Linked DNA regions of Homo sapiens. The protein of the gene in region 4 purifies or fractionates together with the protein of the main gene of each other region. This does not show direct contact. Each region holds a gene or a part of one and is shown on either strand. Other genes may lie near its edges.

Region 1 (3,686 bases), on a different chromosome or scaffold from region 4:
AAACTGGGGAAAGAGGTAATCAACTGAAATGTTCCTACTGGGAGAGACACAGGGTGTTGATTTAAGTCTTTTTTAAAAAAAACTAAATGTAGAGATGAGGTCTTGTTATGTTGCCCGGGCTGGTCTTGAACTCCTGGGCTCAAGTGATCCTTCTGCCTCTGCCTCCCAAAGTGCTGGGACTACTGGCATGAGCCACTGTGCCCAGCCTGATTTAAATCTTAAGAAGATTGGGCCAGGCGTGGTAGCTCAGTCCTGTTGTCCCAGCACTCTGAGAGGCCGAGGCAGGCGAATCACCTGAGGTCAGGAGTTCGAGACAAGCCTGGCCAACATGGCGAAACCCCATCTCTACTAAAAATACAAAAATTAGCTAGGTGTGGTGGCAGGCGCCTGTAATCCCGGCTACTCAGGAAGCTGAGGCAGGAGATTCGCTTGAACCGGGGAGGTGGAGGTTGCAGTGAGCCGAGATGGCGCCATCGCACTCCAGCCTGGGAGACAAGCGAAACTCCATCTCAAAAAAAAAAAAAAAAAAAAAAGAAATCTTAAGAAGATTGATCTTAATGAAGCAATTGGGATTTGTCATCTCAGCCATTCCAGAGAAATACGGAAGAGTCGTGGTGGATGGCCAGAATTGCCTGTCCTGACAGACTGTTCTTTTCATAAATTATAACAAGAGGGCATACATATATTTTCAATGCTTTAAAATCTCAAACAAACAGAAGCAGAGAGATCATTAAAGTGAACCCCCATGTACTTAATATTACCAACATATTGCTATTGACTGTATTTTTTCTTGGCTCATGATTTTTCTTACAATTTTTCGTTGGCATTTTTTTCAGAGTTGCAGTTAAAGGGATTTTTGGATTGGGGTGGGGAAAACAGGGTTGATCTTCTTTTTGGATTATAATTCTGTGATTTGTGAAGAGAGTCTGGAAAGAAATACACCAGGATGTTAACTATGTGCAGGCAGTGAAGCTCTAGGTGCTTTTTTCTTTTTTTTTTAACCTTTCCCTACTTTTATTTATTAATTGTTGTATTTCAAGGGATGCTCATGTCTCTACCTTTCAGAATGTATACACAGAGACTCTAGATTGTTTTTTAAAAATCACACTGAAGTGTACTTGGGCTTCAATGTCTAAAATGCTCATCAGAGCTTAGTCTTCCGTCTAATTCTCAAAGCATTAATTGCCAGGTACTGTAAACTGGCTTAAAAAGAAGAGAAAAAGAAACTGAGTATCCGTAAAGATGCTAGCCTGTGTTGGCTTACCTTACAGTTTATACATTTTTTTGTTCTTGTGTTGAAGGTGACTGCTGAGGTTGGAAAGCTCTTGGGTGAAGAGAAGGTGGATGCAATTCTTTGCGTTGCTGGAGGATGGGCCGGGGGCAATGCCAAATCCAAGTGTGAGTCCTTTCCTGAGTCACTCATTTGTTCTGCTCTGCTCTTTTTCCAGCTGACAAGGATTGGGTTTGCACTAGGTGACAGGCCAGCTGTTTTTTTGTGTATATCCCGGAATCTTTACAGTTGCTCGGGGAGAGAGTGATTAATGCTCTTAATCCATTTTACGGATAAAGAAGAAGCTTCCCCTGGAGGACGTGAGGGGACGGGGGGCATTGAGTTTGAGTTTAAAGTAGAGGCAGAATGAAATCAGCATGGCCTGTGCCCCAGGCCATGTGCTATTCAGGCATTGGAGGATGTGTAGGAAGTGCAGAGATCATTTAGAAAGTCAGAAGAAGTCAAACTTGAGATTTTACTAAAGCTGATTCCTTTTTTCATCTTTTCTTTTCCCTTCCCTTCCCTCCCCTCCCCTCTACTCCCCTACCCTTTTTCTTAAGACAGAGTCTTGCTCTGTCACCAGGCTGGAGTGCAATGGTGTAATCTCGGCTCACTGCAACCTCTGCCTCCCAGGTTCAAGCGATTCTCCTGCCTCAGCCTCCCGAGTAGCTGATATTACAGGTGCCCACCACCAAGCCCAGCTAATTTTTTGTATTTTTAGTAGAGACGGGGTTTCACCATGTTGCCCAGGCTGGTCTTGAACTCCTGACCTCAGGTGATCCACCCCCTTCAGCCTCCCAAAGTGCTGGGGTTACGGGCGTGAGCCAGTGCGCCTGGCCCATTTTTCAACTTTTCATTATGAACATTTCTAAGCATACCAGAAAAGTTGAAAGAACAGTTCAATGAACACCCTTATATGCTCCATCTAGATTCAGTAACTGTTAACATTTGCTGTACTTGAGTTGAGCTTGTTTTCTTGTGCCTGTGTACTTTGTGCATTGTTTTTTGTTAACTGTTTGAAAATAAGTTTACACCTCACTATATTTCCGCGTGTTTCTCCAAAGAATAAGCCCGTCCTACATTATTATGGTACCATTGTACCTAAGAAAGTTAACAGTGATTATCTAAGATTAATGATATTGAGCCCATATTCAAATTTCCCCAGTTTATTCCATGTCTATTATAGTTCTTTTTCCCTAAACATATTCCACTCAAGGTTTATGTACTGCATTATGTTGTTTTTAGTCTCTTAATCTAGAAAATCTAGAATTTTTAAAAAAATCCCCTGTGATAAGACTTTTTGTCAAGTCCTTGGGAGTTTTCATATAGCATGTCTCACATTCTGAACTTGTCTGAACTTTTCTTTAAGGGGTTGTTTGACTTGTTCCTCTATCCTTGGTATTCCCCGTGAACTGGAATTTGGGTCTAGAGACTCAGTTAGATTTAGCATAAACATTCTTGTGGTGCGAATTCTTCCTGAGTGATGGTGTGTACCTTATATGACATCACCTGGGAAGCTCAGCATGGCAGCTTGCCCTACCCTTAGGGATGCCAAATTTGATGCTTGGTTGAGATGGCAACTGCCAGACTTCCATTATAAAGGTACTTTTTTTCTGTTTGCAGTAAGTCAGTCATCTGTGGGATGTGTGGTATTGTGGTATTGTGTGTGAATGTCCTGTTTCCCAAGTATTATACTTTTCACCCAGTGGTTTTAGTCCTTCGTTGATAATCTCTGCCTGAAGCACTTATTCAGGGGTTGGAAAATGGTAGTTTTCTAATTCTGTCATCCCTTCTACATTTATTAGCCAAAGCCATTTAAAAAGACGTTGACATTCTGTGACCCACATGTCAATGTGAGAGTGGTGCTTTGTGAGGTGATCAGGTTAGCAAAACAGCTTGATAACCTTTTTGTATGTTTTGGGAGCAAGAAATGATAAATGTGGATCCATCAGGTTTTTTTCCTAGTCTTTTTTAGTGGGGAAATGCAATTTCTTGTTTATCACCTACCAACCCCTCCTATATCAGGAGGACATCCTTTTTTGATCACCAGGTACCACATGCCCTTCGAGTTGCCCAGTTGGTGGTGTGACATATGTTACCATTTGTTCTTCCTTATGTCTCTGGCAAGGCCGGGGAGTTAAAACAAGTGTAAAATGGTTGTTATTTTAGCTTTCTTTTGAAGAGTCTTTAAAGCTAACATTAAACTTTCAGACATAAAATATGTAGCTCAGTAAAAGCTCTCTTTATAGCTGTACAGTAATAGGCCCTTGGATTTTTATCACAGAGAAAACCTGACGTAGACATATAGGTTCTTATTACAAATCTGATACCATTCATAAAATAAAACAATCTTTGAATTAAAGCCAGTCCAGCAAATCAGTAAACTCCAGGTTTATTTTGTAAAATTTATTGGCCA
Region 2 (3,686 bases), on a different chromosome or scaffold from region 4:
GTATTTTTTGTAGAGGTGGGGTTTCCCTATGTTAAGCAGGCTGGTCTCAAACTCCTGGGCTCCAGTGATCCACCCACCTCAGCCTCCCAAAGTGCTGGGACTACAAGTGTGAGCCACCACACTTGTTCCTTCACTGACTCTCAGATGTATGAGATCCACTTAGGCCTGACACCAGCTGCCTCAGCAATTCGCCATGGAGAGGTTCCCTTGTCTTATTTCATAGCCCCTGTCATAATTTCATCATCTTCCCGTGCCACATCATGTGATTTATAAGGTAATTCATGTAGCTCCTGATAGAAAAGGAGTCAAACTTCGGAAAAAATATCCACTCGCCGGGTGCAGTGGCTCACACCTGTAATCCCAGCACTTTAGGAGGCCAAGGTGGGTGGATCACCTGAGGTCAAGGGTTCAAGACCAGCCTGGCCAACATGGCAAAACCCCGTTGCAGTGAGCCGAGATCACGCCACTGCACTCCAGCCTGGACGACGGGGGGGGGGGAAAATATATACATACACACACACACACACACGTATATATATATTTATACATATATGTGTATATATTTATGTGTATATATACGTATATATATGTTTATATATATATGTACATATATACATAAATAAATATATAGACCCATCTCTAGACTTCCAGGTAATGATATTAATTTGAAATAAGATGACATGTAAGGCCAGGTGCCGTGGCTCATGCCTGTAATCCCAGCACTTTAAGAAGCCAAGATGGGAGGATCACTTGAGCCCAGGAGTTTGAGACCAGCCTGGGCAATACAGGGAGACCCTGTCTCTCTTAAAAAAAAAAAAAAAAAAAAAATAGCTAGGCGTGGACATCTGTAGTCTTAGCTACTGAGGAATGTGAGGCAAGAAGATCACTTGAGCCCAGGAGGTCAAGGCTGCAATGAGCTGAGGCCGCAACACCATACTCCAGTCTGAGCGATGAAGTGAGACCCTGCCTCAAAAAAAGATGACACGCAGGAGGAACAAGATGAAGAAGTAGGTTGGGTGTGGTGGTTCACCTGTAATCCCAGCACTTTGGGAGGCCGAGGCGGGCAGATCACTTGAGGTCAGAAGTTCGAGAACAGCCTGGCCAACATGGTGAAACCCCATCTCTACTAAAAATATAAAAAAGTTAGCCAGGCATGGTGGTGCACACCTGTAATCCCAGCTACTCGGGAGGCTGAGGCAGGAGAATCTCTTGAACCCAGGAGGCGAAGGCTGCAGTGAGCTGAGATAGAGCCACTGCACTCCAGCCAGTCTGGGCGACAGTGAGACTCCGTCTTAAAAAAAAAAAAAAAAAAAAAAAAAAGGACGGAGAGGTGCTGTACACCTTAAGAAAGAGTCCCCCTTAGAAGCAGTTCTCCCATTTGGTCGGCTGGATCCCAGACACTTGATTTTCCACGCCCTCTTCCCTGGGACTTCTGCGATCACAAGCAGAAGAGGGCAGATGGCATTTTAATAATATAGTAATTCCATCAGAAAAAACATGTGACTTAGTACTACTAATCTGACAGGCAGAAATGTAGGGAATTGTACTCAATGAATTTAACCAACTTCTCTCCATTTAGTACCAATTACACTTCATTCAACCAGAGAGGACTACAAAAAAAAACGAGTAAATTTAAGAGCTTACTGTAAACCACTTCATTTCGAAGAAACCTTCCTAAAACACTTAGAAGTTATTTTCCAAAAGATTTATATTTTATAAATTCAACAAAGGTTCTTCTTTTCCTTTAGAAAGCTCTTAGGTTTAAGATAACAGTTTGCATATGATTACTACTTTTTTTTAAATCTCCAAGAGTTTACATGAGAATGCTAGTAGTTCAGTCCTGAATGAAAACAGAGAAAGAGAGAAAGGAACTCCAAATTTAGCTACATCAGAAAGCTAGAAAACACTGTTTCAGTGCACACACTGGGCAGATTGCGCACATTAAAACCCACTCCCCTAGATCGCGCCCACCGCACTCCAGCCTGGGAAACAGAGCAAGACTCCATCTCAAGAAAAAAAAAAAAACCACTCCCCAGCAGCCTCTGCATTCATTACATGTTATGCTAACATACTGGATTTATGTTAAACTCTACAAACTGAAAGCTTTGATAGTAGGGGAATGTGTAGGTTATTATTAATTCAAGTTCTGTTTTTTTTTTATTACCAACCACATGCCAGACACAAGTGATGCACTAGAAATGCAAGCACAAGACACCAGCTCTGTCCTCAAGGAATGGGCAGTGTGGCTATTTAAGTGCTGGCACCTGCCAGTCGTCTGAATGGGGAGCATGCTTTTAGGGACAGTGCTAGGGACTGGTGGAGAACACAGCCACACTGTGGTCTGCCTGCCACCTCCTGGACCTCTCCACACCCGCAGAGGCCTTTGGCCTCTTTTCTTTCCCACCCACATTCACACCCTGGGTGACCTCATCTGATGTGACCTCCAGTCTATCTCCAGCCCAGGCTTATTCTTTTAGCTCCAAACCTGTAGACCCAAAAGCCCACTGGACACTGCTCTACAAGGATGTCTAACATCCACCTCACATTCAACACACATAAATCCAAACTCGCAACAGAAAGCTTCCCACCAGACAGGACCTCCCCAAGTCTTCCCCATCTGAGTTTCTTTTTTTTTTTTTTTTTGAGACAGAGTCTCGCTCTGTCGCCCAGGCTGGAGTGCAGTGGCGCAGTCTTGGCTCACTGCAAGCTCCGCCTCCCGGGTTCACGCCATTCTCCTGCCTCAGCCTCCTGCGTAGCTGGGATCACAGGCGCCCGCCACTATGCCCGGCTAATTTTTTGTATTTTTAGTAGCGACGGGGTTTCACCGTGTTAGCCAGGATGGTCTCGATCTCCTGACCTTGTGATCCGCCCACCTCGGCCTCTCAAAGTGCTGGGATTACAGGCGTGAGCCACCACGCCCGCCCCCCTCCATCTGAGTTGCTTAGCTCAGGCCATACACTATGGGGCCATCTTTAACTCCTCCCTCTCTACCCATCCCTCTCCCAACTTCCAATCTACAAACAAATTCTATTGTCTCAACCTCCAAAACACATGCAGAAGTCAACCTCTTACCCACCCTGAGCTAATCCACTGGCATCTCCTTGCTGGCTTGTTCAACAGTCTCTTAGCTGGTCTCGCTGCCTCTGCCCTTGCCCCTCTGCAGTACATTCTCAAAAGAGATGCCAGAGCAAGCCTGTTGAACACAGTCTATCATGTGACTCCTCCTCTAGAATGAAACCTTCCAAACGGCTGCCATCCTGTTCAGAATAAACACTGAGTCCTCACTATGAGCTGCCATCCTGTTCAGAATAAACACCGAGTCCTCACTATGAGCTGGCAAGGCCCCACTACACTGAGCCTAAGTCACCTTTCTATCCTCAGCTCCTGCTTCTCCCACCGCCACCCGCTGCACCTGAGCCACACCAGGCTCTTGCTACCTGCCCTTCCTCCTACACTGCTTTAAGTCTTCGTCAAAACTTAAACCTTCAGAGTGAGACCCTTCCTGGCCATCCTGGCTACAATTCCAATCCTCCTCATCCTTGGCCCAAATCACCATCCCCCAGGAGCCACGCACTTCGCTGCTAATGCTGGTCTCATGTCTAGAACGTTAGCTACCCCAGGGCAATGGTTTTCATCTATGTTGTTACTTCTCTAGTCCTAGTGTCTAGAACAATGCCTAACACATA
Region 3 (3,686 bases), on a different chromosome or scaffold from region 4:
GTGTCTTTCCCCACAGTTTGTTGAAGTATGAGAATGACTTTAATACTTGCTTTAGTACTTAGATTTATCCTATCTAGAGTTATGCAGCTATTGTGGTATTTGAGTTGCATAGAAGTAAGTTGAGAATTCCTTTGGATTTTGTGGGAGCTGGAGCAGTATGGTCAATGTATTTGATGAAAGAGGAAATGGAAATATGGTAATTATGTTTTCTTCAGTTCAGCTAGGCAGTACTGTGTATGTGTGAATGTATGTGTGGTTGGAGGGGGAGTTAGCATTACAGAGAATCTTTTGGGATTCTTTTGAACTTTGATTAACAAGTGATGGATGATAAATACTTTGTTTTCTAAAAGGCAGAATCTCTTATAAATGGTGTCTGTGGTCAAATTCAAATATAATACATTGAAACATGGAGACTAGAAACAAAATGAAACAAAATTCTCCCTCCATTCATTTTCTATTTTTTTTTCCTGTTTATGATCTAAGCCAACAGTTCTCAAGCTGGGGTGAGTCCCCCTCCCTACTTCCCCAGATCCCCATCCATGGGACATTTGGAGACATTTTTGGTTGTCACAACAGGGGACGGGGTGTGCTACTGGCATCTAGTTGGGTAGAGGGCAGGGATGCTTCTAATCGTCCTAAAATACATGGTACAGCCTTCCACAACAAAGAGTTAGCTGGCTCAATATGTCAGTAGTGTAGAGGTCAAAAAACCCTGTTCTAAGAAAACCAAATACCACATGTTCCTATAAGTAGGAGCAAAATGATGAGAAAACATGAAAACAAAGAACAGAACAGCAGACACTGGGGTCTACTCAAGGATGGAGGGTGGGAGGAGGTAGATGAGCAGAAAAGATAACTATTGGGTACTGGACTTAATACCTGGGTAATGAAGTAATCTGCACAGCAAACCCCATTATACGAGTTTACCCATGTAACAGACCTTCACATGTACCCCCAAACCTAAAATACAAATTAAAAAAAAAGGAAAAACTCAGTTCTAAACTCTTAAATTTTAAAAGCAGTAGTTTATTAGTAAAAGGGCTCTGCTCTCTTCCCCCTAAAGTTAGTAATCTAAATTTTACAAGTACATGGTATTGATGATCTCCAGGTAACGTTGTATTGAAAGATTTTTATCTTTTCATTATCTTTTAAATTAGAATATGATTAAATTAGAGAAACAGACTATAGATACGCACATTCTTTCATCCTTGATGAAATGCTTGAGAATTCACCAGTATAGTATAATATTTTATACTATAATAAAATATTCCAATGACTTATGGATAAACTCTCCTATCACCGATTTTGATAGAGTGCTCATGAAGACTGCATGTTCCTGGACATAATGAATGATTGGTTAAGGTATCAAGTTTAATTATATTTGCTTTAGATCCAGGATTTTCTTTGCCATGATATGATCTTTAAGGATATTTGCCTTTATTTTTACTGACATCATTGGGCTGCCTTATGGCGGTATTCGTGTGTGTGTGTAACATGTTGCCTGAAATATGTTCACTATTACATGTTCCCTGAATAGTTTCAAGGTAGAAATTCTGTTTTTTTAAAAAAGATATTTCTTTTGTCTAGCTAACTTTAATTTCAAGAAACTTTTAACCTAATCTCTTAATTACATAATTATCTTGAGAATCACTAGCTGGGTTTTGGTTACCGTTAGACTAATTCATGATACAGTAAGTAATATTTTATGATCTATTGCAGATCGTTTCCCTTTTTAAGGCTAAATCTTGACCATAATTAATAAAATGCTTACCTTGTTTTGAACTCTGGTTTTAAGGGAGTTAACCTAGCCAACCAAGATAAGAATTACAGTGAAACTCTTAGCAAATTAAGGAGCATTATACCATAGAGAGGAAAATTCTGAAGTCATTCCCACAAATGGTGTCCAAATGAGCCTCACAGTGTCTTTGTAACACACCTCTCCATACCCTTCTCTCTGATACTGACATTTTCGCCTTTTGGGTCCACCAGACTCACTGTTCTTAAGAGAAGCACAACTAAACCAAATGAGATTTTAGTAATCTCTAAATTGTTTCTTTAGATTCCAAGACTTTATTTTGTTGCATTTTGACTTTTTAAAGTGCTACTATGATTTTCTCATCTTTGATATTTCATGAGTCCAATGATTTAAATTTGTGTTTTCATGGTCTGTTAAGTTGCCAGTTGCCATGTTGTCTCAGATTATAGGTAAGGTTGGCAACATTTGATACTAGGGGTCACTGGTATGCCTTAGCTTTTTGCTCACTGCTCTGTAACTCATTGTTTTTTCCATTCCCTTTCATTATTGTTCCCTTTCCATTTTCCTCCCTTCTTTGTCTACTCCCTTTTCTTCCCCTGACCCTTCTGTACTTCCTTATACTGCTTGCTTGTGGAACCCAGTTGTGGCTTAGCATCATGGGTGACTCCAGAGGGCTTACCCGTAGTTTTAATGAAAACAGATTGAATTTAGAATGCTTGAGAATTGACCAGATAGTCTTTTCCACTGTTTTTTCATTTACTGGTTTCTGGACTACCTCGCACACCCTCTTGGGAATAGTGTTACTCTCTTAGAATCAAATGGCTTGAACTTTAGATTGCTCTTATTCTCTTTTTTAATATTCAGGTTTTCCTTAACTCTTTGCTGCTTCAGAAAAAGTTTCGCTCATCTTATTATTCATTTATCATCTCTGTTTAAGCCAAAATTTGACTAGAACCAAGAGTATATTTATTGCTGCTGATAGGACCACATTAGACTTCCTCTGTGGTAGATTTAATTCTGTTAGATTGTAAAATAGTCATGTCTAGACAGAACATTGATTTCAAATTGACTATTGAACATGAAAATTCCAGGAATAGTGTATAGAGGAAGGAGGAGGAGGAGGAGAAATCAAGAAGGTAAGAAAACTACTGTAGATAGCAAGTGACTTTCTGTCATTCTCCACCTAGATTTCTTGTTAGTCACTTTTGTATACCCAGTGCATCTAGAGGTCAGGCTTTGTTTTAATAAAGGGACTTAAAGGAAATATGTTTTTGTCTCTGAGATTGGATTTTTTGAACTGTTAGAGTGGTGGACCTAAGGGAAAGAATTGGAAACTTCATATGGATAGTGATCAAGAATGTGGTCGTAGAGGTTGGTAGACTTGAGCTGTGGTGTCAGTGCTGCCAGTATCTAGCTTATGTATCATTTTCTGTTACTTGATTATTGTAGCACTTTTCTAGCTAAGATTCACCAGTTCCCTATCACTACTTCCTTTTCTTTCTAGTCCATCTGCATAGCTGCTGGAGTGATCTTATTAAAAAATAAATCTGAATATGTTACCCTTGCTTAAAACCTTTCACTGACTGTGAGTCACCTTTAGCATAGAATCTAAAGTCTTAGAATGTCATAAAAGGTCCTTCATCGTTTGGTTCCTGCCTATTTTTTCTAACCTCTTGGTATTGGTTAAGAGTATAGACTCTGGATATAGACCTAATTGGTTTAAATCTTGGTTTCATAACTTAACCTTGGTCAAGTTACTTCACCTTTGTGTGCCTCAGTTTTCTCATCTACACAATGGGGGGATATTAATAGTGCCTACCTCAGAGAGTGGTTTGAATATTAAATGCTAGTTATTCTGCTGCAGCTTCTCCTCAGCCTGAGTACTATATTCCATCCATACAGACTTGACTTGCAGTTTCTTAAATGTGTA
Region 4 (3,500 bases):
CACTTGGGAATAGCCAATCACCAAATGCTTATAAGAATGTACAGTTTTTCCTTCCTTTCTTTTATTCTCTCTCCCTCCCGCCCTTATCCATCCATCCTCTCATCCATGCATGAATGCATCCATCCATCCATCCATCCATCCATCCATCCATCCATCCAACAGATATTGATTCCTGGGCTGACTTCGAGCTTAACACCAAAGATTCAGCAGTAAGAGGGCAGGCACAATCCCTGCTCAGCCTGTCTGACCCTCCCCAACCCCCAATCCTGCCCCTTCAGCAAGCCTGCCTCTAATATTTGCAAGGCCTGAGACAAGAATACAAATGGCAGCCTCTGGCCCCAGTGCTTTCTCCTTCTCATCACTGTGGTTCTGACAGCCAGCAAGGGTGCTCATGTGTCCACATGTGGACAGCTCAGCCCGGATACCCAAACTCCACCATGCCTGCCTCCCCAAGTAGCCAACTCAACCATCCTTCAGGTCTGGGGGAGCTCACATAGCCATGCAGTGCTCCCCTGGAGGATGGAACAGGAAAGATCCCTGCAGCCCTGAGAGGAGGCTCAGAGCCATTTGGGATTTTGGGGTCCTGGGTACCCAGAGCATCATCTAGAAGGGAGGGGTGCAGGTTTCAGGGGGGTACATCCCTTTGGCCCCACAGAGTCCCCACCCTGGGAGAGGGCTGCCATTGGCAGAGGGCCAGAGGGAGACTGCTTCCCCCAAGCCCAGGCAGGGGTCCCCTTTGCCCAAGTCTGAGGGCTGTACTGCCTTCCATGGCCTCCCACTGCCTCCCAGGACAGTCTGGGGGAGCTAAGGTCCCTCCCGGCTCTCTCTCTCTGCCTGAGTGGTGTTGCCTGCCCCTCTGGTCAAGAGTGAGTCAGTGCTGGGGCCTGACAGGCTGTGTCTGTTCAGGGGTGGGTGGGGTCTCAGCTGCCCCAAGTTTGCCCAGGAGTGGGTGAATCAGTGCTGACCCAGCTCTGCCCTGGCCTGGCAGCCTGTGCATTTGTTAGGAGGATAGCAGATCGGCCCAGTCAGCCTGACGGGAATTGCTGAGACACCAGGCTGGTTTCCTGTCTCCGAGGGTCAGGATGTGACCCTGGGCCCCCTCCCGGAATCCAGGCTCCGGCCTGCCCTTCAGGGACCCAGCGAGATCCAGCCCCTGCCCAGCGGGGCTGTCTGCAGACCTGCCCAGCACACGCACTGAGCGGCACTTCCCCAAGGCTCTCGGCTGCCACCGCCCATCTACCACCCACCCACAGGAAATCTGAGGATTCTGAGGGATGGACGGGAAAGCCACTTCTCTGTGCCAGAGATCGAAGAAGCCGGCCATAGGTCAGGAGGGATCCGGCTGGCTGCTAAAAGCCACCACCCCCACTACCACGTCCAGCCCCATGCCGCTAGGCCTTTGCTGTGCACTGGCTTCTGCCTGGAATGCCCTCTACCCTGCTCTTGGGCTAGACACCAGGGGCCTTTTCCCTAACGCCCCTCCCTCCTCTACCTTCAGTGCTCATCACCCCATCACCTGCGGCCCCCTGAAGCCCCATTTGCTGATCCCACCACTCATACCAGGGCTGCTGATGCCACCTCTGCCTCCCTGGCTCTACCTTCTGTCTGCATCATCAACACAGGCTGGGCACAGAGTGGCACCTGGTGAGGGCTGCGCAATGGGGACTATGAGCTCTAGACCCCACTCTTAGGGGATGCCTGGGGAGGAAGGTGCCTCCCAGGGAAACCACAGGGTCCTCAGTGGTCACAGCAGTAGGGGCTGGCAGCATCATGGGCTCAACCCTCAGAGCAGGGAGACAAGAAGCAGCAGGAGGAGGAAGGCCCAGCTCCATGAGGCTGGACCTCAGCTTGCCCTGCTGAAAATGAATTCACAGCCCTGCCCCATTAATCTTTTTTTTGTTGTTGTTTTGTTTTTGAGACAGGGTCTTGCTCTGTCGCTCAGGCTGGAGTGCAGTGGTGCGAACTCGGCTCACTGCAATCTCCACCTCCCGGGTTCAAACGATTCTCTTGCCTCAGCCTCTCTAATAGCTGGGATTACAGGCACCTGCCACCACGCCTGGCTAATTTTTGTATTTTTAGTAGAGATGCGGTTTCGCCATGTTGGCCAGGCTAGTCTCGAACTCCTGACCTCAAGTGATCTGCCTGCCTCAGCCTCGCAAAGTGCTGGGATTACAGGTGTGAGCCACTGCGCCTGACCTGCCCCATTGATCTTGTAGCAATAACCATTGAGGTTCAAATTATTCAACTGATACGAAGACATTCTGTAAACGGTAACAACCCTGGCAAAATGGGGATGTTCACAGAGGAGAAATGGAACCCAGAGAGAAATAATAATAACAATAACCGTAGCCACCATACGCTGAGCCGTCACTCCAGGCAGGTCCTGCGCTTGGTGTTTTGCTTGCACCGTCCTGCTGGATTCTTACAACACACCTGTGAGGTAGGTGCTGCTAATGGGTCCAGGTTTCCCGTGGGAAAATCAAAGCTCGGAGGTGGCCCAAGGCGATGTGGCTCTCAGAGGCGGAGCCACAGTTCAGCTGGAGGGCTGCCTGGCTCCAGAACCTGTGTTCTCAACCCCTGCATCAAGGTCATACAGCGGCGCACACATTTGTGCACGCATGCGTGCATTCACTCACACGTTCAAGAGTTACTTGGGGCCAGACGCAGTGGCTCATGCCTGTAATCCCAGCACTTTGGGAGGCCGAGGTGGGCGGATTATTTGAGGTCAGGAGTTCAAAACTAGCCTCTCCAACATGGTGAAACCCTGTCTCTACTAAAAATACAAAAATTAGCTGGGCATGGTGGCAGACGCCTGTAATCCCAGCTACAGGAGTCTGAGGCAAAAAACAAACAAACAAAAACAACAAAAAACAAACAAACAGAGTGATTTGGTGTAAGCCAGGCCCCTGGGCCAGGTTCTGCTACTCTGTGTTCTCAGGTGAGCTCCTGAGTCCGAGAAAGGTGTGTCTACCAGCAAGTGGGGAGAAGGACCACCCTCTGCACACCAGATGCTATGCGAGGTGCTGGCCAGGGACAGATCCAGGACTGAACCCTGGGTTTCCTGGACCCCAGATGTCTCTACCACCTCCTCAAATGAACATCCCTCAAAGCCCTGGAGCCTGCAGCCTGGCTCCTTGAATTAAAAGTTGGAAGCTCCCTGGAGCGAGTTCTCTAGAAGAGGCAGAGGCTAACAGGGAGATTTTGTTGTCATGAACTCAAGGATCCTTGGAATATGGCATGAGTTACAGTGGCCCCCTGCCATGCCCCTAAAATCCCTCCAAGAACTGTTATTGCCCACGGGATAAAGATCAAACTTCTTAATATGGCGACAGGCCTTTGCCATCTCCCCTGTCCTGCTGGGGAACCTCTAGCTCCTGCCACCTGATGACCCCAGAGCCTGTTCCCTCTGCCTCCGCATTCACTCTATTCTGTGCTCTTCCACACCACCTCCTTCCTTGGTGAGCTCCTGGACATCCATGATGTTTCTTCCTCCAGGCCCA

Evidence for each region. Proteins that work in one complex are often made in the same cells at the same time.
Region 1: the proteins of ENG (region 4) and QDPR purify together in Homo sapiens (affinity purification with mass spectrometry; one large-scale study listed by BioGRID and IntAct). This does not show direct contact.
Region 2: the proteins of ENG (region 4) and ATG4B purify together in Homo sapiens (affinity purification with mass spectrometry; one large-scale study listed by BioGRID and IntAct). This does not show direct contact.
Region 3: the proteins of ENG (region 4) and ACVR2A purify together in Homo sapiens (affinity purification with western blotting, with the first as the bait; 2 studies listed by BioGRID). This does not show direct contact.

Annotation. Positions count from the first base shown.
Region 1 is NC_000004.12:17,502,091-17,505,776, reverse strand, and holds part of QDPR (dihydropteridine reductase), read left to right. Parts: intron 1-1,301; coding exon 1,302-1,398; intron 1,399-3,686. UniProt on the Homo sapiens protein: Catalyzes the conversion of quinonoid dihydrobiopterin into tetrahydrobiopterin.
Region 2 is NC_000002.12:241,640,507-241,644,192, reverse strand, and holds part of ATG4B (cysteine protease ATG4B), read right to left. Parts: intron 1-3,686. UniProt on the Homo sapiens protein: Cysteine protease that plays a key role in autophagy by mediating both proteolytic activation and delipidation of ATG8 family proteins. Required for canonical autophagy (macroautophagy), non-canonical autophagy as well as for mitophagy.
Region 3 is NC_000002.12:147,847,843-147,851,528, forward strand, and holds part of ACVR2A (activin receptor type-2A isoform 1 precursor), read left to right. Parts: intron 1-3,686. UniProt on the Homo sapiens protein: On ligand binding, forms a receptor complex consisting of two type II and two type I transmembrane serine/threonine kinases.
Region 4 is NC_000009.12:127,837,659-127,841,158, forward strand, and holds part of ENG (endoglin isoform 1 precursor), read right to left. Parts: intron 1-3,500. UniProt on the Homo sapiens protein: Vascular endothelium glycoprotein that plays an important role in the regulation of angiogenesis. Required for normal structure and integrity of adult vasculature. Regulates the migration of vascular endothelial cells.